Homo sapiens: one gene and its partners. The protein of the gene in region 3 purifies or fractionates together with the protein of the main gene of each other region. This does not show direct contact. Each region holds a gene or a part of one and is shown on either strand. Other genes may lie near its edges. The genes, in order: AXL, SEMA6B, PCDHB3, SEMA4G, EPHX1, EPHX4 and CNNM3.

Evidence for each region.
Region 1: the proteins of PCDHB3 (region 3) and AXL purify together in Homo sapiens (affinity purification with mass spectrometry; one large-scale study listed by BioGRID and IntAct). This does not show direct contact.
Region 2: the proteins of PCDHB3 (region 3) and SEMA6B purify together in Homo sapiens (affinity purification with mass spectrometry; one large-scale study listed by BioGRID and IntAct). This does not show direct contact.
Region 4: the proteins of PCDHB3 (region 3) and SEMA4G purify together in Homo sapiens (affinity purification with mass spectrometry; one large-scale study listed by BioGRID and IntAct). This does not show direct contact.
Region 5: the proteins of PCDHB3 (region 3) and EPHX1 purify together in Homo sapiens (affinity purification with mass spectrometry; one large-scale study listed by BioGRID and IntAct). This does not show direct contact.
Region 6: the proteins of PCDHB3 (region 3) and EPHX4 purify together in Homo sapiens (affinity purification with mass spectrometry; one large-scale study listed by BioGRID and IntAct). This does not show direct contact.
Region 7: the proteins of PCDHB3 (region 3) and CNNM3 purify together in Homo sapiens (affinity purification with mass spectrometry; one large-scale study listed by BioGRID and IntAct). This does not show direct contact.

The regions. Positions count from the first base shown.
Region 1 is NC_000019.10:41,257,223-41,259,744, forward strand, and holds part of AXL (tyrosine-protein kinase receptor UFO isoform 1 precursor), read left to right. Parts: intron 1-270; coding exon 271-407; intron 408-2,330; coding exon 2,331-2,522. UniProt on the Homo sapiens protein: Receptor tyrosine kinase that transduces signals from the extracellular matrix into the cytoplasm by binding growth factor GAS6 and which is thus regulating many physiological processes including cell survival, cell proliferation, migration and differentiation.
Region 2 is NC_000019.10:4,546,185-4,549,684, reverse strand, and holds part of SEMA6B (semaphorin-6B precursor), read left to right. Parts: intron 1-1,239; coding exon 1,240-1,422; intron 1,423-1,511; coding exon 1,512-1,658; intron 1,659-3,215; coding exon 3,216-3,293; intron 3,294-3,410; coding exon 3,411-3,469; intron 3,470-3,500. UniProt on the Homo sapiens protein: Functions as a cell surface repellent for mossy fibers of developing neurons in the hippocampus where it plays a role in axon guidance.
Region 3 is NC_000005.10:141,098,999-141,103,272, reverse strand, and holds the start of PCDHB3 (protocadherin beta-3 precursor), read right to left. Parts: upstream 2,801-4,274; 5' UTR 2,624-2,800; coding exon 233-2,623; 3' UTR 1-232. UniProt on the Homo sapiens protein: Potential calcium-dependent cell-adhesion protein. May be involved in the establishment and maintenance of specific neuronal connections in the brain.
Region 4 is NC_000010.11:100,976,004-100,979,503, reverse strand, and holds part of SEMA4G (semaphorin-4G isoform 1 precursor), read right to left. Parts: intron 1,873-3,500; coding exon 1,774-1,872; intron 1,685-1,773; exon of another isoform or gene 1,210-1,684; coding exon 1,116-1,209; exon of another isoform or gene 978-1,115; coding exon 864-977; exon of another isoform or gene 687-863; coding exon of another isoform or gene 656-686; coding exon 486-655; exon of another isoform or gene 403-485; coding exon 233-402; coding exon of another isoform or gene 132-232; intron 1-131. Other genes in the region: MRPL43 (large ribosomal subunit protein mL43), read left to right, coding at 493-686. UniProt on the Homo sapiens protein: Cell surface receptor for PLXNB2. May play a role in axon guidance.
Region 5 is NC_000001.11:225,837,624-225,841,123, reverse strand, and holds part of EPHX1 (epoxide hydrolase 1), read right to left. Parts: intron 2,471-3,500; coding exon 2,243-2,470; intron 1,908-2,242; coding exon 1,778-1,907; intron 1,296-1,777; coding exon 1,087-1,295; intron 569-1,086; exon of another isoform or gene 1-568. UniProt on the Homo sapiens protein: Biotransformation enzyme that catalyzes the hydrolysis of arene and aliphatic epoxides to less reactive and more water soluble dihydrodiols by the trans addition of water.
Region 6 is NC_000001.11:92,043,485-92,046,984, reverse strand, and holds part of EPHX4 (epoxide hydrolase 4), read right to left. Parts: intron 1,454-3,500; coding exon 1,325-1,453; intron 1-1,324.
Region 7 is NC_000002.12:96,826,268-96,829,767, reverse strand, and holds part of CNNM3 (metal transporter CNNM3 isoform 1 precursor), read right to left. Parts: intron 2,936-3,500; coding exon 2,786-2,935; intron 2,038-2,785; coding exon 1,868-2,037; intron 1,670-1,867; coding exon 1,573-1,669; intron 1,202-1,572; coding exon 1,068-1,201; intron 773-1,067; coding exon 634-772; coding exon of another isoform or gene 476-633; exon of another isoform or gene 1-475. UniProt on the Homo sapiens protein: Probable metal transporter.

The DNA of each region.
Region 1 (2,522 bases), on a different chromosome or scaffold from region 3:
TAGTAGAGACGGGGTTTCACTATATTGGCCAGGCTGGTCTCAAACTCCTGACCTCAGGCAGTCCGCCCACCTCAGCCTCCCAAAGTGCTGGGATTACAGGCATCAGCCACCGCACCCGGCTAAAGTATTATGTTTCTATGAATACTTGTGATGCTCCCAGAGGATGGTTGTGAACATGTGTACATAAGTGTGGGTGTACCCATGAACCTGGGTATTGGTGCGGGTGATTCTGTGCAGGAGAGACTGTCTAATTCCCTCTGCCCCTCACAGTGGTCCTTCGGGGTGACAATGTGGGAGATTGCCACAAGAGGCCAAACCCCATATCCGGGCGTGGAGAACAGCGAGATTTATGACTATCTGCGCCAGGGAAATCGCCTGAAGCAGCCTGCGGACTGTCTGGATGGACTGTGAGGACCCTTAGGTCTCCCCCAACCCAGAATTCATTCCAAACCCCTGACTACCCCCAGATGGCCCTCACAGGTCCAGGACTCTCTATAACCCAGACAGAATCCCTGAGAATGCTGAGTGACCCACTTGCCCCTCACCAATGCTCTGAGTAGGGCCATCACTAACCAGTGGGGTGCAAATCAGCTAAAGGCACCCTTTCCTCCTTTGTCTGTGTGGGCTGAATCAGCCCCCTGGCTCCCCACCCCCAAGCCAGGTATCCTTGGGTAGTGAATAACAGCACAGTCTTACCTGGCGGCCCTGCCTTTGGGACATGCACTCCCAGAGACTTCTCATTCCAGACTCCTGAGCACACCATGCTTCCCCGACATGCTCCTCAACACCTGAGACTCTCTGCAAAACCCTTCAGTTTGTTTTATTGGCCTTCTCCAGACTCAGGTCTCCTCTGAGATATTTGCAGGATCCTTCAGGGAATGCTTACCAAACTTTGCAATATTGGAGTATGCGGAGAAGGCCGTGACATTTAGCTAGCACTTTGAGGGTAAAGAGAGGATGACTTTGGGTCAGGAGGAGACAGCCTGGGGCGTCAGACTCCTCAGTCCACCTTGGGTACTCCAAGAGCTGAGACGAGTAAAAATAACAGCTAACATTTTCATATAACTGACTAGAAGGCACTGTTTTAGGTGCCTGGCATGTGTCAAATCATTTGGTCCTTACCACAGCCATGTGATGTAGATAGGTATCATTATGATTCCCATTCTGCAGATAAGAAAACCCAGTCCTACAGGGAGGGTAATTTATTTTTATTTATTGACTTGAGTCTCGCTCTGTCGCCCAGGCTGGAGCACAATGGCTCCATCTCGGCTCACTGCAACCTCCCAGGTTCTAGCGATTCTCTTGCCTCAGCCTCCCAAGTAGCTGGGACTACAGGCGTGTGCCACCATGCCCAGCTAATTTTTTTTGTATTTTTAGTAGAGATGGGGTTTCACCACCTTAGCCAGGATGGTCTTGATATCGTGACCTCATGATCCACCCGTCCCAGCCTCCCAAAGTGCTGGGATTATAGGCATGAGCCTCCACGCCCAGTCTGGGAGGGTGATTTATTTGCCAAAGATTGCACAGCTGGTGTGTTTGTTATCTATATCCCCAAATCAAGTAGTTTAAAACAACAAACGTTTATTATCTCACACAATTTCTGAAAGTTGGATACTGGGAACAGCTTAGCAGGGTGATTTTGGTTCAGGATCTCTAATGAAGTTACAAAGATATCACTGGGGGCTGCAGTCATCTGAAGGTTGGGACTGGAGGATTGCTTTCAAGGTGGCTTACTCACATGGCTGTAGCAGGAGGCTTCAGTTCGTTGCCATGTGGACCCCTTTGTGGCACTGCTTGAGCTTACTCACAACATGGCAACCCAGGAGAAAGTGCGAGGAAGCCACATGCCTTTTATGACCTAGTCTCAGAAGTCACACACACCATCACTTCTGCCAAATCAGAAGCAAGTCACTAAGTCCTGCCCATGCTCAAGAGGAGAGGATTTATTCTCCGTCTTTTGCAGGGAGGAGGGTCAAAGAATTTATGGACCTATTTTAAACCAGCACAGCTTGTAAGTGGCATAGCCAGGCTTTGATGCAAGTCTGTTCTGGGGAGCTGGAAGGTCTGTTCTAGCAAACCCTCATCAGAATACTACTCCATATACAGACAGGTTTCCCGAGACCCTTCCCAGCTCCTGAGTCTCCCAGGACCCAACTCAGAAATTCTTGGGAATTCCCAAATCCCCATAGATGGCCTCAAACTGCTGAGGCTCCCTATAACCCTCTAAAATGCCCCCAGTCCCCTGAGTGTCCTAAAATGTCCCCAGGCTTCCAGAATGCACCCCTTCTGAGTCCCTGCTCAATCTCCCACCCCTCATTTTGCTGCCCTAGGTATGCCTTGATGTCGCGGTGCTGGGAGCTAAATCCCCAGGACCGGCCAAGTTTTACAGAGCTGCGGGAAGATTTGGAGAACACACTGAAGGCCTTGCCTCCTGCCCAGGAGCCTGACGAAATCCTCTATGTCAACATGGATGAGGGTGGAGGTTATCCTGAACCCCCTGGAGCTGCAGGAGGAGCTGACCC
Region 2 (3,500 bases), on a different chromosome or scaffold from region 3:
AACACAGTGAAACCCCGTCTCTACTAAAAATACAAAAAATTAGCTGGGCGTGGTGGCAGGCGCCTGTAGTCCCAGCTACTCAGGAGGCTGAGGCAGGAGAATGGCATGAACCCGGGAGGCGGAGCTTGCAGTGAGCCAAGATCACGCCACTGCAGTCCCGCCTGGGCGAAAGAGCGAAACTCCGTCTCAAAAATAAAATAAAATAAAATACAAAAATTAGCCAGGCGTGGTGGTGGGCGCCTGTAGTCCCAGCTACTCGGGAGGCTGAGGCAGGAGAATCACTTGAACCCGGGAGGCGGAGGTTGCAGTGAGCCGAGATCACGCCACTGCACTCCAACCTGGGGCCAGAGGGAGACTACACCTCAAAAAAAAAAAAAAAAAAAAAGAGGTAGACAGACAGACACACACCAGGAGAACAAAGGGGGAAAGAGACAGAGAGACAGGGAGAGAGACAATCAGAGACAGACAGACACCCAGAGAGACAGAGATAGGGAAGAGAGACAAAGAGAGAAAGAGACTGAAAGATACACAGACACACATACATATCAGGAGAAAGCGGGGCTGGGCACAGTGGCTCATGCCTGTAATCCCAGCACTTTGAGAGGCTAAGACGGGAGGATCACTTGAGGTCAGGAGTTTGAAACCAGCCTGGCCAAATGGTGAAACCCTGTCTCTACTAAAAATACAAAAAAAAGAAAATCAGCTCGGTGTGGTGGTGTGCGCCTGTAGTCCCAGCTACTTGGGAGGCTGAGGCAGGAGAATCGCTTGAACCCAGGAGGCGAGATCGAGCCACTACACTGCAGCCTGGGCAACAGAGTGAGACTCTGTCTCAAAAAAAACAAAACATAAACTTGCCAGGCGTGATGGCGTGTGCCTGTAGTCCCTGCTACTCAGGAGGCTGAGGCAAGAGAATTGCTTGAACCCGGGAGGCGGAGGTTGCAATGAGCTGAGATTGCGCCACTGCACTCCAGCCTGGGTGACAGAGTGAGACTCCATCTCAACCAAAGAGACAGGGCTGAGGAGAGCCTGGTTTGGGGTTATGTTTCAAAAAAGGGCGAGTGTGCCCACGTGCCTGTGTAGTCACGCATGTCCCCGGCATCCATGCACACACGCATTTATTGCTGTCACATGTGTTGGTGTGTCAGTGTCTGTATGCACCCGTGTAACTATGGCCATGCCCGTGTTGGTGGCATGTGGTGATATGGGGCCAGCCTGACCCTCCCCTGCCCTGTCCCCCAGGCACCAGCTGACTCGAGTGGCTGTGGACGTGGGAGCCGGCCCCTGGGGCAACCAGACCGTTGTCTTCCTGGGTTCTGAGGCGGGGACGGTCCTCAAGTTCCTCGTCCGGCCCAATGCCAGCACCTCAGGGACGTCTGGGCTCAGTGTCTTCCTGGAGGAGTTTGAGACCTACCGGCCGGACAGGTAAGTCTGGGCAAAGGTGGGAAGGGGTCGCCAGCAGGAGGGGAGATGGGCTGAGATGCGCTCAGCCTCACCACTCTGCTTGTCCCCAGGTGTGGACGGCCCGGCGGTGGCGAGACAGGGCAGCGGCTGCTGAGCTTGGAGCTGGACGCAGCTTCGGGGGGCCTGCTGGCTGCCTTCCCCCGCTGCGTGGTCCGAGTGCCTGTGGCTCGCTGCCAGCAGTACTCGGGGTGTATGAAGTGAGTGTCCACCCCAGGCCAGCCGTGGGCGGGAAGCAAGGGAGGATGGGCACAGGGAGGGACAGCTGGGTTCCAGTCAAAAGCCCAATGATGTCCTGGTCATTGAGCTGGGCAGAGGGCATGGCCCGTGCAAAGGCCCGCGGGCAGGACCACTCCTGGTGTGTTGGAAGAACAGCAAGGTGGCCGGTGTGGCTGGAGCACAGTGAGCAAGGGGGAGTGAGGGAGGAGGGGAGGACGGGGAGGGGATGGGAGAGGACGAGGCAGTTTGTGCAGAGCTTTGTGAGCCTCGGGGAGGACTTGGGCTTTGACCTTGAAGGAGATGGGAGCCATGTAGGGTTGCAGGCAGAGGAGGGACTGGCCCTGACTCAGGTGCTTACAGGTGCCCTCTGGTGGCTGCTGCCAGGAGGAGACTGCAGGGGAAGGAGAACCAGGGACCAGGGTGGAGGCTGTTTCCCCGTCTCTAAAATGGGAGGAAAGCTAGGATGCATGCCAGTGCTGGCACACGCCTGCACTCCATGTGAGCCGTCAATGCGGAGGACCCTGCTTCCTGCCCGCCGTTATTGCAACAATGACCCAGTAGCTCCGAGTCCAAGGGCACAGCCTCTGGCACGATGCCTGGGCTCCCATCTCAGCTCTGCCACTTGGGCAAACATTTACTTTCTGGAGCGTCAGTTTGCTTATCTGTAAAGTGGGGAGTGAACAGTGCCCTGCACACAGATTTGTTCTAAGGACTCCAGAAGTTGCTATTAAGAAGAGGGACTGGGCTTGGTAGCTCACGTCTGTCATCCCAGCACTTGGGAGGCCAAGGCAGGAGGACTCCTTGAGCCGAGGAGTTCGAGACCAGCCTGGGCAACACAGCATAGTGAGAGCCTGTCTCTAAAAAAAAAAAAAATGCAAAAATCAGCTGGGCGTGGTGGCACACACCTGTGGTCCCAGCTACCCAGAAAGCTGAGGCAGGAGGATCACTTGAGCCTGGGAGGTTGAGGCTGCAGTGAACTATGATCATGACACTGTACTCCAGCCTGGGTGACAGAGCATGACCCTGTCTCTTAAAGAAAAAAAAAATTAAATTTTAATTTAAAAAAATTTTTTTAATTTTAAAATAAGAAAACGCCAGCCGTGGTGGCTCACACCTGTAATCCCACCACTTTGGGAGTCCGAGGCGGGTGGATCACTTGAGGTCAGGAGTTCAAGACCAACCTGGTGAAACCCTGTCTCTGATAAAAATGCAAAAATTAGCTAAGTATGGTGGCGCGTGCCTGTAATCCCAGCTACTCGGGGGGCTGAGGCAGGAGAATCGCTTGAACCCGGGAGGCGGAGGTTGCAGTGAACCAAAATCCCGCCACTGCACTCCAGCCTGGGCGACAAGAGCGAAATTCCATCTCAAAAATAACTAAATAAATAAACAACAAGAGCGAAATTCCGTCTCAAAAATTAATTAATTAAAATAAAAATAAAGAGGCAGGTGCTTGGAACAGGGCCCACAGGTCACCATCACCATTGGGGTTGTGTAAGTGACTTGGACACTTGTCCCATTCGGTCCCTGGTCTGCTCTAGGAACTGTATCGGCAGTCAGGACCCCTACTGCGGGTGGGCCCCCGACGGCTCCTGCATCTTCCTCAGCCCGGGCACCAGGTACTGCGGGAGAGGGAGGTGGGTGGAGGGTGTGTCAGACCCGCCCATGATCCCAGATCCCCCTGATCTCTGACTGTGAGAGGGGCCTCTGCTGACGGTGCCTCCTCTCCCCATTAGAGCCGCCTTTGAGCAGGACGTGTCCGGGGCCAGCACCTCAGGCTTAGGGGACTGCACAGGTGAGTTGGGGGGACGGCAGGCTAAGACCCC
Region 3 (4,274 bases):
AAAATGTTCTATCGACTAAGGATTCTCGATTGAAATACAAAACATTCAGAGCCACACAACTACTTTCCAGTACTGTTAATGAAACCTAAGCCATCCCTGGATTTGATATTTTGCTCTATTCTTGCTACTTGCCTTGAACCAGACCAAAAAAGACCTCTCCAATGGACAAAGCAGTAAAAAAGGACTTTCCACAGATTAACTAAGACGAGGCTCAGTAGATCCTTATTAACACTTAACTGAATTCAAAGCTCTTCCTGAAACTGGGATTTGCCTCGCTAACCCTCTCTGCACCCTGAGCAACGAAGTTGGGGATAATTGGCTTCAGGAACTTGAACTCATTTGTCCCGGAGCCTCCAGTCAGACACACCTCGTACTGGTAGCTCTGGGACAGGGTCCCGGTGCCGCTCACGTCCACCATCTGCCCTGGAAAGGGGCCCTCGGGCACCGAGCAGCGACCCACCGAGGCCGCCCTGCTCCTCCTGCACAGCCGCACCGCCACGAACAGGAGCACCGAAAAGAGGAAGAGCGAAGACACCGAGGCCAATGCCACCACCAGGTAGACGGTGAGCAAGTCGGCCTGGGCCTGGGCCGGTGCCGCCTCCGGGAGAGGCAGGTAGGGCTGGGAGAAGCCGTCCACCAGGAGCACATGCAGCGTGGCGGTGGCCGAGCGCGGAGGCTCGCCATTGTCCTTGACCAGCACCACCAGCCTGTGCTTGGCCGCGTCGCGCTCGCTCAGCAGCCTGGCGGTGCGCACTTCGCCATTGTGCGCCCACACGCCGAACAGCCCGGGCTCCGTGGCCTTGAGCAGCTGGTACGACAGCCAGGCGTTCTGGCCCGAGTCGCCGTCCACCGCCACCACCTTGGTCACCAGGTAGCCCGGCTCAGCCGCCCGGGGCACCAGCTCGGTGCAGGGCGCGGAGCCGTTCTGCAGCGGGTACAGCACGAAGGGCGAGTTGTCGTTGGCGTCCAGCACCAGCACGCGCACCAGCGCCTCGCTGCTCAAAGCCGGGGAGCCACGGTCTGTGGCGCCCACGCGGAACTCGAACGCCTGCAGGGCCTCGTAGTCCAGCGACCTGAGGGCAAACAGGTGGCCGTTGTCCGCGTTGATGGAGACCAGGGAAGAGAGGGGCAGGTGCGGGTCCTGGGGCGGCAGCAGCGAGTAGGTTACCTGGGCGTTGGTGCCTGAGTCTCTGTCTGTGGCGCTGACACTGCCGATGTGCAGGGCGGGGCTGTTGTTCTCGCGGACGAACAGGGTGTAGGAGATTTGGGTGAAGGCGGGGGCGTTGTCATTGACGTCGGAGACCAGCACGGTTATGTTGTACTTGGTTTTCAGCCTGGGTGTCCCCAGGTCAGTGATAGTGATGGTAATGTTGTACTCGGATCTGGTCTCTCTGTCCAGCGCGCCTTCTGACACTAGGGTGTAAAAATTCTCTACAGATGGTTTCAGGAAGAAGGGGAGATTGTTCTCAATGGAACACATCACTCTTCCGTTGTCTCCAGAGTCTAGATCAGAAACACTGAAAACAGCCAGTACAGTCTCTCCCGAGTTCTCAGGAATAGGGCTGTTTACTGAAGACAAGGTCAGTTCCGGTGGGTTGTCGTTGACATCAACCACCTGGACTATGACTGTAGACTTTCCGGATAGGCCTCCGCCATCCTTGGCCTCGATGTCGACTTCATAACTATTAATCGCTTCAAAATTCAAATATTTGACCAGTTGCATATCACCAGTAATTGGATTTAGCTGAAAAGTTTTGCGAATTTCTTCAGAAGCATGAAAAAATGCATATGATATTGTCCCAAAACTTCCTGTATCTAAGTCAGAAGCCGAGACAGTGACAATGACAGAGTTAACGGGGGTATTCTCTAGAACTGCAACCTCATAGAGCGGCTGTGCAAATTCTGGTGCATTGTCGTTTATATCTAAGACCTGGATGTTTATCTGGGCTGTCCCAGACCGAGGGGGAGAGCCGCCGTCCAGCGCGGTGAGCGTTAAGCTGAGTTCCGGCTGCTCCTCCGGATCGAGCGCTTTATCCAGTACTAGTTCCGGGTACTTCCTTCCGTCCCTACGACTGCGAGTGAGTACGTGGAAGTGGGAATTCGGAGTGATAGTGTAGTTTTGGAGGCTGTTTCTTCCCACATCCAAGTCCTCAGCATTTCCCAAAGGAATTACTGTTCCTGGCAGAGTGCTTTCTAGGATTTTCAGATGCATTTCATTTTCAAAGAATACCGGAGAATGGTCATTTACATCTATGATACGGAGCTCGTTTGTAACGAATTGCAAAGGGTTTTGCAGTAATATCTGAAAATGTAGTATGCATGGTTCTGTGGGGCCGCATAGCTCCTCCCGGTCCAATTTCTCATTCAGGAGCAAATCACCTGTCTGATGACTGAGCTGAAAATGCTGTTTGTTCCCTTTGGACACAACTTGGGCCCCCCTCGCGGCCAGTTCCTCTACCCTTAGTCCCAGATCCTTTGCTAGGTTGGCTATTAAAAAGCCCTTCTCTTTTTCCTCAGCCACAGAATAGCGTCTTGACTCGGACCCAGCCAGAGACCCTCCCAGAAAAACAAAGAGAAGCAAGACTTGCCTTTGTCTAAGAAATCGCTCTCCTCCCGCCTCCATTGCACTTTCCGTCACGCTCTTCCAGGGAATGTCGCCAAGCTGAACCTCAGACAGAGCTGGGAAACAGTCTTTTGCCCCACAACCTTTGTAGACGGCCTAGTGAATAAGCCTTTCCAGAGGCTCAGACTTGCTGGCTCAAAAATCTGCCTGGGCTCTCAACCGCTGGTTTACCACACTGGATCCGTGCGTCACCGAGCATGCACAATGCCTGTGGTTTAATTCGCCTTCTTAGTCAACAGCGCCACCATGCGTTCGCTTGCAGTTACAAAATCTTGGAGAAGGTGTTTTTATTTTGCTTTATCGATTATTCTTATCAACCCTAGTTGACGCTACTGGAGGAGTTTCTCATGTTATATGAATTAAATAAATGCAATCTAGGGAAATAAAATGCACTTTTATCTACGAGCAGCGATTCTTCCTGGTAGAGTCCTCATTTACACGATTTAACGGAAGTGTACACATACTAGTTTACCCCTCCCCTTTTGTAATAATTACACACAAACTTCAAAAGATTTTTGCTCTAGATGATAGCATGCTTCACTATCCTATTTATGTTTTTCTTTTTTTCCTAAACTTTGTGAAATGAGCCCGAATTGCATATACCAGAAAAACACAAGGAAAAGACACCTCCTGCAAGGTGGTAAAAAAGAAAATATATCATGTCAGAGGTGGATCCAGAGGACTACAAATACCTAATTTCTTCCAGATTATCATGCTCAAGGAACACTTAAAGTGCTTTCTCTTCTTATTTCAGAGCAAATTTACAATTATTCATTTCATCTGTATTAGTTTATTTCCACAGATAATTGTTGAGTTTGTAGAAGTTAGGCAAGTGGTGGTAACAAGACAATGTCTGTATATCTTACAACAATTTTCCATCTAGTGGGTGTACAGTCTTTAAACAGATGTTTAAACAGTGTGAAAAGTGCTACATAGAAAAGGTACTGAGTGCACTGAAAGTATGCAATACGGGGACCTAACTTAATGGAGAGTGATTAAGAAAGTTTCCCCCAAGGTGCACCATTTAATCTGAAACATGAAATAGGAGAAGTGTGCCAGGCTAAGACTGTAGAATGTGTGAAGGCCCTGAGAGAGCAAAGCATAGCTATTAATAGATAATGAATGAAGTACAGTGAATACAAAACTTAATGTCTCAAGAGTAAGTGGAAAGGAAGGCTGAAAAGGTAAACCAAGGCCAAATAATGGGCGCTTGGATTTTATTATTCTAAGAACAAAAGGAAGCCATTGCAAGGTTGTTGGTACAGAAATAAAACAGTGCAAATATGTGTTCAATGTAGCCGCTTTTGTACTTCTACACAATTATCAAGAATGTTTGCTCTTAATACTAGTGATACTAAAAATAACAGCAATTTCACTTTTATGTCTTTATATTGAGTATAACTGCAAGCTATTCAAATACCTGCTATCATTTGGGTAGAAGAAAAGAAACTTTGTGACTCATCCAAAATCCTACAGGTAATGAGTTGGTTGATCAGAGACTTTTGATACCAACACAGCGCTCTACACCATTGCTAATCTCAAAACAAGACCTTCAAAGTTAATATTAAAATTTTAATAGGATAGCTCATTCAAATGTATGTAAAAATGATATAAAAATATAAAGATAGACTGAGTAACATTAAGAATTAAG
Region 4 (3,500 bases), on a different chromosome or scaffold from region 3:
GGCCGAGGCAGGATAATCACTTGAACCCGGGAGGCGGAGATTGCAGTGAGCCGAGATCGCGCCACTGCACTCCAGCCTGGCAACAGAGCAAGACTCCCTCTTAAAAAAAAAAAAAAATTCTCACTTTGCAGCCAGACCTCCCCACAGTGGATCCTATCTCATCCTCATTGACCTCTGCTCCAGCCCCTATGCTGTCCGCAGTTTCTTGCCTCCCGATTGTCCCTGCACTGACCACTGTGTGCTCAGCGTGAAGGCTGCATAGAAGTGTGTACGGCTTGAGGTTTCAGCATCCAGGCTGCAGACCCCACGCAGTGTCTCATACAGTGGAATGTGGCAGATGAGACGGGCTTTCAGGAAGGAAGTCCACTTCTTCTGCAGGATCTTCTTCCCTCCCAGGTCTCCCTGGGGAGGTAGAGGCACGGGATAAGGGGCCAGGGTCAGAGGTCCAGCCTCTATACCCGTGCCCCAACGTCAGCCCAATCCACCTTGCAGACACGAGCCACACGGGCCACACGGTGACTGCTGCGGCTCTGAGTGAAGCTGCCAGAGCCCTCCTCAGTGGCACGCTCCGTGAAGAAGTAGTACACCTTGTCATCATCACCCACTGCACTGGCCTTGCTCTCCCGCACGAGGACGGAGAACACAAACTCCGCATCTGTGGGTCAGGCAGTTTGAGAGGCTTTTGAGACAGGCTGGGGATTCCTTTCCCTCACTCTGAGGCTGACCCCTCACTTGACAACACACAGGAATGGAATGGACAGGCTCACCTGGGGATTTGGGGGTGGGGTGGTCAGCTGGCCAAGGGAGTAAAAATGAAGAAATAGTCCCCTACCCCCCATCATCCTGTGCCTCATCCTCCTAACCATTGAGCCAATGCATTGGTGTCTCCTCAGTTCTCAGGGAGTGTGGGTGGCGGCTCCGGCGGATGTCAGGAATGCTCCGGAATTCATACCTAGTGGCTGTGTAGAGGCCTCCATCTGGCGTGGGGATATTCCAGGCATGAGAGACATGTCATATTCAACAGGGCACATGACATATACATGGTGGCAGGTCCTAGAGATGAGATCCACATCCTAAAAATACCATGTCTGTGATAGGGAAGAAGGCCTGCTCACCAATGATGAGGCCTGTGAAGCCACGGGCTGGGTCATAAGGACACTTCTCCTTCCCCTCCTCGAAGCTGGTTGGCAAGGTGAAGGCCTCAGCATCCTAGGGAACAAGGAACCAGCAGTAAGTGGTTCCGAAGACAGGCAGGGACAGTGGCTCAAAGTCAGATCAGTCTGGGGTCAGGGATCAGCGATCAGGGATAGGGGCAGGTTGTATGGCAGATGCACCTGACAGCAATAACTTAAGCATCCCCTGAGAATGACCTTATGGCCTCAAAACAATGTATGTTTGGAGTTCCAAATCTGCAAGTGGCCAACCTAGAGATTCACTCCTTATCTATGAAGAACATCTGAGCCCCTAGCCCATCCTGTGGAACACATGCTGTCCAGGGGATCAAGGCCCTTTGTTTTGGGTTAAATGAAGTTTGCCAGGTGGAGGTGATTAGGGGGAGGATGCTAAGTGAAAATGCTATAAAAACTGCATGGTTTTTACAAAGGGGAATGGTTCTCCAGTGCAGCCCGCCGCCACTGGAGTGCCCTGTATGGAAGTCCCCTTAATAAACCATCCGTCTCCTTCACTGGCTCTGAGTCTCTTCTTTGGCATCTTGAACATGATCCCATCCCTAATGAAGTCAACAGAGATCTGGCACAACACAGGTATACTCACAATGGCTGCACAGAGGGGCTGGAAGGCGTGAGTCCCACATGCATAGAGGTGGGTAGAATTGAGCCGCTGCAGGAACCGCACATGGTTAAAGCACTCCGTCTGTGGGATGAGGTGGAGAGGGCTGTGAGCCCCCTGCCTGACTAGAAGCCTCCTCCATTAGTCTAGCTTTGTAGTTTGGCTCTTGCCCCCACCCACAGGACAAACGGTTCTTTCCAAGATACCTGTGATCCTTCTCACTGCTCCAGAATATTTCCTGGAACTCACTGTCCTTGGCCTCCCAGTAACATGACCCTATTTCTCTCCTCTGTCCCTCAGATTACCTGACACCATTCTGCCAATATCTCCTGTGTCTCTTGCAGTTCCCTCCACCTCTGGTTCAAGAGCTCCCAGGGATTCCACCATCCTGAGGTGCTTCTCCTCTCCCATCCAGCTCCTTCTCAGCACCTCTTTCTATTCTTGGAACTCCTGCCCTCCTCGCTGGGGTGATACAACCAAATCTATCCCTAGATGCCAGCTTGCTCTCCACCCGATATCCCAGGGATGTTTCAAACTCACCTTGTCAGAAGCCAAGTTCATCCCCTCCTCCATAACCTACATCTTTCCTAAACCTGTTTATCCAGTCTTTCCCACCTCACTTCATCCAACCTACGACTCAACCTAGAAGCCAGGGATCATCCTTGCTGCTTCCTACTTCCTCACCCCCACATTCAGTCCCTCTCCACAATTAATTCATTGTCCTAAAAGTCTCTTGACTTGGTCCACTTTGACTCCACCACCAGCACCCAGTCCAAATGACCACCATGACCTCTTCCTTAGACATCTGCAGTTGCTACCTGATAGCTCCTCCCAACCTTCTCTTTTATAAAAACGACTTTATAAAGCTATTTATTCAGTCAATGAATACATGTACATAGTATAAAACTTAGAAAGTACAAAGGGGTATGTTATAAACAGGGAGTCTCCCATTTATCCCTGTCTCCCAGGTTGCCTGCCAAGAAGACTGCTGTTACTATTGTCTGAAGTTTCCTTCCAGAGATATTTTACCAAACAACACACTTTTGCTACTCTCCAACCACTTTCCAAGGGATATTCTAAAAATGTAAACCTAGCCAGGTGTGGTGGCTCACACCTGTAATCCCAGCACTTTGGGAGGCTGAGGTGGGAGGATCACTGGAGCCCAGGAGTCCAAGACCAGCCTGGACAATATAGCAAGACCTCATCTCTATGTGGTGGCATGCACCTGTAGTCCTAGCTACTTGGGAGGCTTAGGCAAGAGAATTGTTTGAGCCCAGGAGGTCGAGGCTGCAGTGAACCACTGCACTCCAGCCTGGGCAACAGAGTGAGACCATGTCTGAAAAAAAGTCAAGTGGATCACACCACTGTATCGGCTCATCAGTGACCTGAATATAGAGTCCCACATGCTCCTAGCCCTGTGTGATGGGACTCTGCCCATTCCTCTGGTCTCACTCACCCTACTCCAGCCACACTGGTCTTCTCTGCCTGTCAAATGCCCTCAGCTGCCAGCCTCTTGACTCCTTTGCCACGTTAATGATTCCTCCTCTTGCCTGTTACCCAGGGTTTAAATCCATACAGGCCTCTTTGTGTCTCCTCCTGCTCCCTCACCTGGTACAAGCCACTACCATCTGTCCCCCGTCTCCATAAGCCTGCTCAGGCCCCTTCCTCTGACCCAAATGATGCCCCCAGCCTCCTCACTGCTTTTCCTGCCT
Region 5 (3,500 bases), on a different chromosome or scaffold from region 3:
CCCCGAGGGGCATCTGGAGTGTTGGGGCCATGTTGGTGATATGGACGTACTTCACTTGTGAAAATTCTCACCAAAATGTTCACAAGTTCTTTTGAAGGAGAGGGGATGTGGGGAGGGAGAAGAGGTTATATGAGATTGTCTTTAATGTTTTGTACTTTTTGCATTTTTAAGCTTTTTGACAACATGTATTTTATAATCAGAGAAAAATGCTGACTTTTATAAAGTGCCATTATTATGATTATGAGCTGCCTCGTGTGTGTGGGCATGGGTTTGCCATGAAAACTATGAAGAACTTTGAGATGGGCAAGACAATTCCTGGGTGTCTTCTGGACAAGATCTAGGGAGTTACCTAGCAGACCTTCCGGACTGACGTGATGCTACAGGGGTCCCATCTTTCCTTGTCATTGAGCTATTTTACAGTTCTGTGAATTGTAAAGAACTGAGGGTAATGCGAATGACTCTTGTTCATAGAGGCAAATGAATTTTGTCCCATGGAGATTTAATTGATATTACTCTGTGGATGTTGACAAGTTTTGTGTCTGTTAGCAAATTAATTTCAGTGTTCTTATTTGTCTTTGAATTGTTTCTTTTTAAAATTTTACTGGTTCCTTTATAAATTTACCTTTTTGAAAAAGTATTGTCCTTTAACAGGACCCTGGTGGCAGACATGGTTGCTGGGCCCTCCCTCACTGCCTGGGAACCTCTTCCCCAAGGCCCCAGGGCACCCTCTCCCCTCTCCCCTGCAGCCCCAGAGCTGCCCACTCCCAGGATTCCTCCTACCTCACCCCCTCCATCCCTCTGCTTCTCAGTGTAGGATATAGACTCAGGGGTGGGAGATCAGGGGTGAAAGCCACTATGAATACTGAGTCGGCTAAACAGAGTTGCTAAATTGGCCTGGGAATCTGCTGAGGGTCCATCCTCTTGATTCTATGGGAAAATGCAGTTTAAAGATCTAAAGAGCTGGGAGGTCCTTACAAGAGGCTTCCTTCTGTGGGCAGCATTGGGGTGGGGTGGTGAGGTTACCCCGCGGGTGTCTCCCTGCCCCAGTGGAGCCGGCAGTGGGCGAGGACCCCTGAGCACACTCACCTACGGTGTCAGGCTTGGTGCACTGGATGTGCATGTAGCCGCTCTCCCTCATCAGGCTGTAGAATACCTTCTCCTTGACGGGGTACAGCAGCTCCACATCCCTCTCAGTGAGGCCAAGAAACCTCCCGAAACGCTGTCCCAGGAGGAGGGTCAGGGTAGAGAAGTTGCTTAAAACCAAAGCCATGTTCAAGTGCAGGCCTTTCACGTGGCTGAAGGCAGAGAGAGGGGCCGGGGTGAGGCTGGGCTGGTGTCAAGGACAGGGAGAGAGGAGAGATGGCGGAGGAACAGGCCTCAGGGCTGAGGAGCGAGCACAGAGCCAGCCTCTTTCAGCACTGGCCCCACTGGGGAGGCCATGGGAGTTGGAGAAGGGAGGTTGGGGGAAAAATACAGTTTCTGGGGAGTTCTGCTCAGGGCTATCCCAGAGCTTGGTCCAGCAGAGAGGTCTAATGCCTGACCTTCCCCTCCTATCACAGGCCTTCTCTGCCTGGGAACCTGACCCAGAGCCGCAACCCTGGGTTACAGACAGGAGGATCCAAGTCAACGTGCCTCAGGCACTGCTGAGTGACAGGTCACACTCCCTCCTCTCCCCTGGGGGGTCCTTGGCCCACCCTGCACACAGGTCCACTTCTTAGAGGACACACACACACACACACACACACACACACACACACCACCCCAACAGTGACCTCACCTGGGCACCAGCTGGGCCATATTAGTGCAGATCAGGGACCCCCAGTCCCCTCCTTGAATGTAGAATTCCTGGAAGCCCAGCCGCAGCATCAGCTTGTAAAAGATCCTGGCGGTGGCCACCGAGTTGAACCCTGGCAGTGATGGGGAAAGGCATGGAGTCACGGAGTCACAGGCAGATTGCTCCTTGGGCCCTCTGGTGTTCTATGAAATTTCTCAGGCCCGCCTACCCCCAGGTGGAGGTCAGAAAAGCTCACAGAGGCAAGAAGGAATCCTGGAGCCCAAATATAGGGGTGGCATCTCCAGCCCCGGAGGGCGGTGTGTCTGGGGCCGGCCTCTCAGGCCCCTCCTTTCCCAGCTTCCTCGGGCCAACTCCCTGCTCACCCCGCCGGAAGGAGAGCCTGGTGGGAACACCGGGCCCACCCTTGGCGAGGACGGGGCAGTTATGGAACCTCTAGCAGCCCCGTACCCTTCTTGGAGGATGCCTCTGAGAAGCCATAGCCAGGGATGGAAGGGCAGATGACTTCAAAAACGTGCTCATCGCTCAGGCCATGGTTCTTGGGGTCAGTCAGGAGTGGGATGATCTTATAAAACTCGTAGAAAGAGCCGGGCCAGCCGTGCACCATCAGCAAGGGCTTCGGGGTATGGCCTGCGGGCAGCTGGGGGGGCTTCACGTGGATGAAGTGGATGTCCAGCCCTGGGGGGACAGAGCACAGTCAGGGTGGAGGGAGAGAGAAGACCCTGCACGGTCAGGCTCTGGCACCCCCCAGAGCCTAGATATTGAGTCCTGCCACCCTTAGTGCCCCCGCCGCCCCTTCATGGTATTGACAGTAATAAGGGCTGACACTGGTTTCACACTCACACTGTGCTCCAGGTGCACAGATGTCCTCACTCAGCCTTCACAACCTCCCTGCAAGGGAGCTACGATTATTGCCTCCCGGTTTCCTTAGAGGTGCCCCCTGACAGCTGGGCCAGGTCTGTACAGCCACTGCTGGGTTTCCAGGGCTCAGGACAGCTCCTGGCTCACAGCAGGCCTCCATAAATACTTGTTCAATAATTTAAAATCTGGAGGGTAGGGAGAAAGCCCCACGTATCCAGCAATACAGGATTAATCAAGTATAGTTTGACAGTATACTGGAGTCCAGTACAGTCATCTAAACTGACAAGGTAGATGTATATTTATTTAACATAGAAAACTGATCAGAAGATATTGCTGGGAGGTAAAAGCAAATGATCAAGTCATATCCATTGTGTGACCCAGTTTTTATAAAAAGTCATCTATGCTTATACTGTACTTATACTATGTATTGGTGAATTTTAAAAGTCTGGGAGGATAAACTCCAAGAATGTAAAAAGCAGTTCTCCTGAGCAGTAGATTCCAGTGCTTTTAATTTCTCTTTGAGTTTTATGTACTTTCCAATTTTTCTACAATGAACAGGTATTAAATGCATAATTTTTTTCATACACATTGACAAAATGTCACCTTTTTCTGATTACCAAATGATATTTTCTTTAAAGTGGAGTATTTTTGGGCCTGGTGTGGTGGCTCACGCCTGTAATCCCAGCACTTTGGAAGGCTGAGGCGGGTGGATCACCTAAGGTCAGGAGCTCAAGACCAGCCTGGCCAACATGGTGAAACCCCGTCTCTACTAAAAATACAAAAAAATTACCCGGGCATGCTGACAGGCGCCTGCAATTCCAGCTACTCGGGAGGCTGAGGCAAGAGA
Region 6 (3,500 bases), on a different chromosome or scaffold from region 3:
AAGAATGTGATTTTTTGATCCTGTATGATGAAATGTGTCAACTTATGGAAGATCTGCATAAATCAGTGAACAAACATCTTACAATGCATGATGATACAAAACCAGGCATGGATAAAAGATACAATAAAAGTGCTAGGGAGACCTGTGGGTTTTAATAGAGTATAGTATTAAAAAATCATTTATTTGCCATCACATTCCACATTGTTACCTTTAAGAAACCATTGGCAGGGCGCGGTGGCTCACGCCTGTAATCCCAGCACTTTAGGAGGCTGAGGCGGGCGGATCACAAGGTCAGGCATTTGAGACCAGCCTGACCAGCACGGCGAAACCCTGTCTCTACTAAAAATACAAAAATTAGCCAAGCATGGTGGCGGGTGTCTGTAGTCCCAGCTACTCGGGAGGCTGAGGCAGGAGAATCGCTTGAACCCAGGAGGTGGAGGTTGCAGTGAGCCGAGATGGCGCCACTGCACTCCAGCCTGGGCGACAGAGCGAGACTCCATCTCAAAAAAACAAAAACAGAAACAAAACAAAACCATTAATTTTTAAGTTTGGTATAGTATTAAGAAAGAAAATCCACAGTTATCTGAAAAGGCTATTAAAATACTCCTCCCTTTTCCAATTACAGATCTGTGTGAGGCCAAATTTCCTCACATACTTCAATGCAAACAACATATTGCAACAGATTGAAGAGATTTGCAAAAATGTAAAACGATGACACTCTTTTCACTAAAATTTTGTTTTGGAAGATGTAGTTAGCTTTCATTTAAAATATGTTATTTATGTTAACATGTAATGGTTTATTTCTTTTGATGAATTAACATATAAATATTTTTAAATTTCTATTTTAATTTCCAATACAGTGAATATTTATAAACCATATAAGTAAAAGCTCAATGGGGTCTTTAATAATTTTAAGAGCATATAGAAGCCCAAGACCAAAAAATGTGAGAACTGCTTTAAAGAATACTGCTATTCCTGACAGCCAAAGCAGTCAAGCAAAAGGAGAATTTATTTCTAGGCTGTCAGGATTCATTACTGTCAAAGCAATGTCATTGTATGTTTCCCTTTATCCCTCCCCAAGTTAACAGTAAAATCTTTTTTTGAAGGAATAAAATTATGTAAGCAAGTATAAAGCTAAATTTTCTTAGATTCCCCAGGAAGATTGAAAACCAAGGTATCTGACACTGTCATGTGCTATCATGGTTTAGTCATTTAATTTTAAAATATGATAGTAACCAAATTTTGCTGTTTCTAATCCAAAAGGTCAGTGGCAAGAGTGAATTGTCACATTAGCAGAACTGTTTTGATAAAAACTTGAACTCACCTGTAAATACATTTGGATGAGGGAAGTTAATAACAATAAGCTTCATCACCATTTCAGGATAACAGATGGCAATTAGCCAAGCAATCATGCCCCCCCAGTCATGGCCAATAAGAACACATTTGCTATACCCTGTAAACAAGAAATAAATGTTGACATCATTAAAAAGAAACAGGTGGGTGCACTGTTACCTCACATAAAATAGTTATACTTCTGAAGTACCTCTTTTCATTATCTTATCCTAATTATGCACTTTGTGCAGATATTGAATTCAGTGGTTCCAAAACTTGTCTGTACATCACCTATATAGCTCCACTCTAAACCTATAGATTGAGAATCTCTCCCAGGAATCCATATTAAAAAAAAAAAAATCTGAAATAGGCCGGTGTGGTGACTCACACCTATAATCTCAACACTTGTGAGGCCAAAGCAGGAGGATTGCTTGAGGCCAGGAGTTCGAGACCAGCCTGGGCAACATAGCAAGACCTCCCCCCAACACACACACCCAGCCGTCTCTACAAAAAAATAAAGAAATTATCCAGGTGTGGTGGTGTCCACCTGTAGTACAAGCAACTGTAGAGCCTGGAGTGGGAGGATCCCTTGAGCCCAGGACTTCAAGGCTGCAGTGAGCCATGATCATGCCACTGCATTCCAGCCTGGGTGACAGAGCGAGACCGAGACTCTGTTTCTAAAAAAGAAAAAAAGTGTGGGGGGGTACAAAAGAAACAAAAGAAACATCTGAAATAGCTTATGTTGCTCAGCTCTGGTCCCATGGACCTGAGTTTGGAAACCATGGTAAAGACTGCACATAATGAAGTCAAAAGTAAGATTATTTGGTTTTTTTTTGAATGCTCAGAAATTTCTAGTTATAGTAAAATTATAAATGTCTCATCTATGTCCAACCTCATAAATCTTTATTTCCAGGAAGCATCTATCTCTTCCCTAACTTCACAAATCCTATGTACAATTCAACACAGAAAATCTGTCACTAATTTGGAACTGTGAAGTCAAACTGAAGTAATGGAAAGTCTTAATTATAGCACCAATTTTGCACCAGTTTCATTTCATGTAATCACTCGGTTAATTTAAAGTACGTTAAAATGTTGATTAATAGAGATTCCTACAGGATTTCCATTGTATGGATGCATAAAATTCATTTGTAATTTATTCCTGGAGTACTTAAAATTGCTTAATTCTTTCAAGGAAGTAATTCTCACCATCACTCCTCACTACTATACTAATACACACACGTAGACATAAACACACATGCATAAATCTTGTTTATATTAATTATTTGCCTAAAAATTTCATGATGACAAATTTAGGCCAGGTCTGACTGAATTATCACAAAATTTGAAATATAATTGTTCAAAATCAGTGTCTGAGTCTCTTTTACTGTAATCAGACTAAATGACAATATTGTATGTGACACCCCCAGACCCCATTCATTTTTTTTCCCCTAAAAATATTGGCCTGATCCATGCTCTCATTAGATTACTGTAGAAAGTGCCTTTGATTTCATGGTATTTCTCACTATATTGCTTCCATTAACATACTGATGGTAGCAGCTTGGTTTCAGTCAAAAGGGATATAGTATTAATAGATTGGATTATTGTTAAAAAATATTTACTTTCCCCTTCTCCCTGCTGTCACAGTAGTCTACTTGCTGCCCCTTTGATTTTAGACTTGGCCATGTGATTTGCTTTGGTCTCGTGGTGGCTATGTAGCTTGACTTTGGGCTCCACCATATGACTTGCTTTGACTAATGGGCTGCCGGTAGAAACTTAAGCTTGTGCACCTGGGCTCACCCTCTACCATCGCCAGGAAAAAAGCTTCCCTCAGGCAGCCACTCCCTTTTAGCTTGGGCTCCAGCCCAACTCACAGAGAGAAGCCAGTCCCAGCTGGACCTGCAGCCTGAGGCAAAGACCAGAGGAGTCCAGCCTACGGTTAACCTGCAGATCCATGAGCACAGGAAAAAATGGTTATGACCCTATGCCACCGAATCTGGGGTGGTTTGTTCCACAATATTATGTGGTTCTAACTGATTGATACAACAGAAATAATGCAAGTGCATCTGTATAACATTTTAAAATGAATATTTAGGTGTGTGTTCTAAAGAAATAAACTTTCTAAGTATAAACTTTTCAATAATTATTTCTCAAAATAATAAACAGCATAC
Region 7 (3,500 bases), on a different chromosome or scaffold from region 3:
ATCTCTGATTAAGTCAATCCATTCTAAGACGTCCTTGAGAGAAATACCGACTTACTATACTCTACTCTAAATACCAGTTAGTCTATAGTTTGGTGTCATCCATGCTATTAAAGACAGCAAGAAGTTCAAGTTGAATAATGAATTAAAAAAAAAAAAAGCAAGAAGGGGGTTGGGCACAGTGGTTCATGCCTGTAATCCCAGCACTTTGGGAAGGTGAGGCAGGCGGATCATCTGAGGTCAGGAGTTCAAGACCAGCCTGGCCAACATGGTGAAACCCCATCTCTACTAAAAATACAAAAATTGGCCAGGCGTGGTCGTGGGCGCCTGTATTCCCAGCTACTCAGGAGTCTGAGACAGGAGAACTGCTTGAACCCAGGAGCCGGAGGTTGCAGTGAGCCGAGATCACACCATTGTACTCCAGCCTGGGCAACAGAGCAACAGAGTAAGACTCCATCTCAAAAAAAAAAAAAATTATTTATATATAGATATATATATATAAAGAAGGGAAAAGGATGGGGAGAAAAGAGAGAAAAAAGACAGAGGGTGGGGGGGCGGCGAGAGTGCAAGTCTGTGTGTGTGAGCTCACGGCCCTCAGGTCCAGACACCATGCACGATGTACCACTTGGCACTCACCTGCCGCTGTGGTGGTCTTCTCACCAAGGAGCCTGGTCTGGCTGCCTGGAATAACCTGCAGGTCGGTGTTCTCAGGGGACTGTGGCAGGTTCTGGGCTCGGGTAGCCAGGAGTGCATTGAGGTACTGCAGTCGCGTAACCTGGAGGATGACAGCGTTACTGGGACCCAATTGGTGAAGCGAGATGCAGAAGGTAGGCAGGAAAGGTGACACCGTGCCCGAAGAGGACAGAGGCACAACTTTAAGCTAGTTAAGGGCAGAGAAGAGCAACTGAGTCAAGTGTTTTTAAGACCTTGCTTGGAAACTGGGTGCAAAGGTCTGTGTCCCTCAGGATGAGTGGAAGGCCTTGTTCCGGGCAGTCTCAGACCAGCTGGTCTAGCCCCCGGTGACACAAAGTCGGCTAAAGCCAGCACCCACAAGCAGCCCAGGCAGTCACCTTGATGAGCTGCAGATCAGAGAGCGCCCTCACGGTGTAGTCGGGACAATACGCAGATGAATGCGTGCCGTCACCTGGGTCGGGCTGCAGGTCATGGCGGATGGGCTGGAGCGAGGACACCGGGGACTGGTGAACTATCAAAGGAACAATCAGTGATGGCAGGAGCCATGCTGGCAGCTGGGAGCCTCCTCCCCTGGTGGGGACAACTGTACAGTTTCGAAGACCCACCCCACCAATCACTCTGGAGAGGCAATGTGCATGGGAAGCTGGGAGAGAAGGACAAACACAGCCGGGAGAGGTTTTGCAGGGGTGGAGTGGGCCACAAAGTTGAGCGATGAAGAATGCTGCCCTCCCTCCTGGAAGCCCAGGGGCTACACCACCTTGTGGGGTGGTGGGCTCAGGTGGAAGGAGAGGTGAGGAGGGGCACTGAGAGCCCAAGTGATGATGGGGGACAGGCTCTGCAGCCTCCACCCTGGCCCTCAGCATCAGCAGGGCCGTGGCTTACCCGAGGATGGCACAGTTAGGGCCGACACTCCATAGTACGTGAAGGCCCCATTCTCAAACTTCAGACCCTCTTTCCCGATCTCCACTTCAACCCTGCCCTGGGAGGAGTGGCAAGGAGAGAAACAGATGCGGCCAGATTACCTTTCCCGTCAGAAGACAGCGGAAGGAGAAACCCACCACCTCAATTGTTTGGGGTGGGAGGGTGCATATCCGCATGCCCCTGCTCCCCTCTTCTCCTAGACCCTTCCCTGGCCTGAGGAAGCAGGAGGGACTCCAGGCCTGGGACCCACAGCTACCTGCAGGATGAGAATGAAGTAATCCACCGGCTGGCTGCGCTGGTACAGGTAGTGGTGTGTGGCCAGCCGGTTGCTCTCGTCAAACCTCACTTCCTGGTTGACACTGGGATGCTTCAACAGGTGCAGCAGGACCTTCTCAGAGATGCGCAGCGGGCTGAATACATCCACTTCTGCACGTGGTGGAAAAAAGGGACAGTGTCCACTGGGGCCTAGTGGCCAGTGGAACCACACCCAACACTGTAGGCAATTTAAAGTTATTGTGCCCACCAGGGATCTCCCGGGTGGCCTGTGAGCAGCTGCCCCTAACACCTCAACACAAGAGAACTAGGCAGGGGCCAGGTGCGGTGGCTCACGCCTGTAATCCCAACACTTTCGGAGGCTGAGGCAGGTGGATCACCTGCAGTCAGGAGTTGGAGACCAGCCTGGCCAATATGGCAAAACCCCGCCTCTACTAAAAATACAAAAATTAGCTGGGCGTGGTGATACACGCCTGTAATCCCAGCTACTTGGGAGGCTGAGGCAGGAGAATCACTTGAACCCAGAAGGCGGAGGTTGCAGTGAGCCAACATCGTGCCACTGCACTCCAGCCTGGGTGACAGAGCGAGACCCTATCTTTAAAAAAAAAAAAAAAAAAAGAACTGGGCAGGGCACCCCACATCCGCCCAGCTGAGAGCTGAGGCCCCCTGGCTGTGGTGCACCAGGCGTGGCACTGGCCTGGCCCTGCTCTTGGTCATCTGGCAGAGAGGAGGTGTCTCTCCCATGACCCAAGATGCTGGCAGGGCTGCAGAGAACACAGAAGTCCTCAAGACGCACCCGCCTGCTAGGAGTGGGGAGCAGAGTCAGTGTCGGCCCTGGGCGGCCTCCTGACCCACAGAACGGTGAGGAGAGCAGGGGGCATGGACCACCCTCCCGCCTCACCTCGGGACAGGAAGCGCTGGGTGGCCAAGAGCAGCTGAGGCGAGATTGTTACTTTATATTCATCATCAGACACCTTGAACAAGGAGAACTCCTCCTTCCGCTTCAGAGGGGCCATCAGAGAAGCAGGCTTCCTCTTCACCACGGTGTCTCCTAAGATGGAAGAAGAGGGCGCGCTCAGGCATCAGCCACCTGTCAGTCAACACGACCACACTAAGGGGCTGCATCGCCTGCTCCTTCCTCCTGAGGCCAGGGGGTCCTCGATGGAGCAGCATCGGAACGCCAGGGACATGTCCTCAGCACCGCTCCCTCCACGGGGCCTGCTCCCACCCCAACCACACAGAGAGAGGGGTGACTATCTGCCTTGGAGCTGGCTGAAGAGAATGCTGATATGATAACAAAGCAGCTTGTATAAAATAACAAGCATCCCTGATAGGTCACTGGATGTAGACTAAAAACTTTTTTAAATTTAGGCCAGATGTAGTGATTCACACCTGTAACCCTAGCACTTTAGGAGGCTGAGGCGGGAGGATCACTTAAGGCCAGAAGTTCAACACCAGCCTAGGCAACATAGAGAGACCGTGTCTTTACAAAAAAATAAAATAATTAGACGGGTGTGGTGGCATGCGCCTGTAGTCCCAACTGCTCAGGAGGCTGAGGTGGGAGGAACACTTGAGTCTGGGAAGTTGAGGCTGCAGTAAGCCATGAATGCGCCACT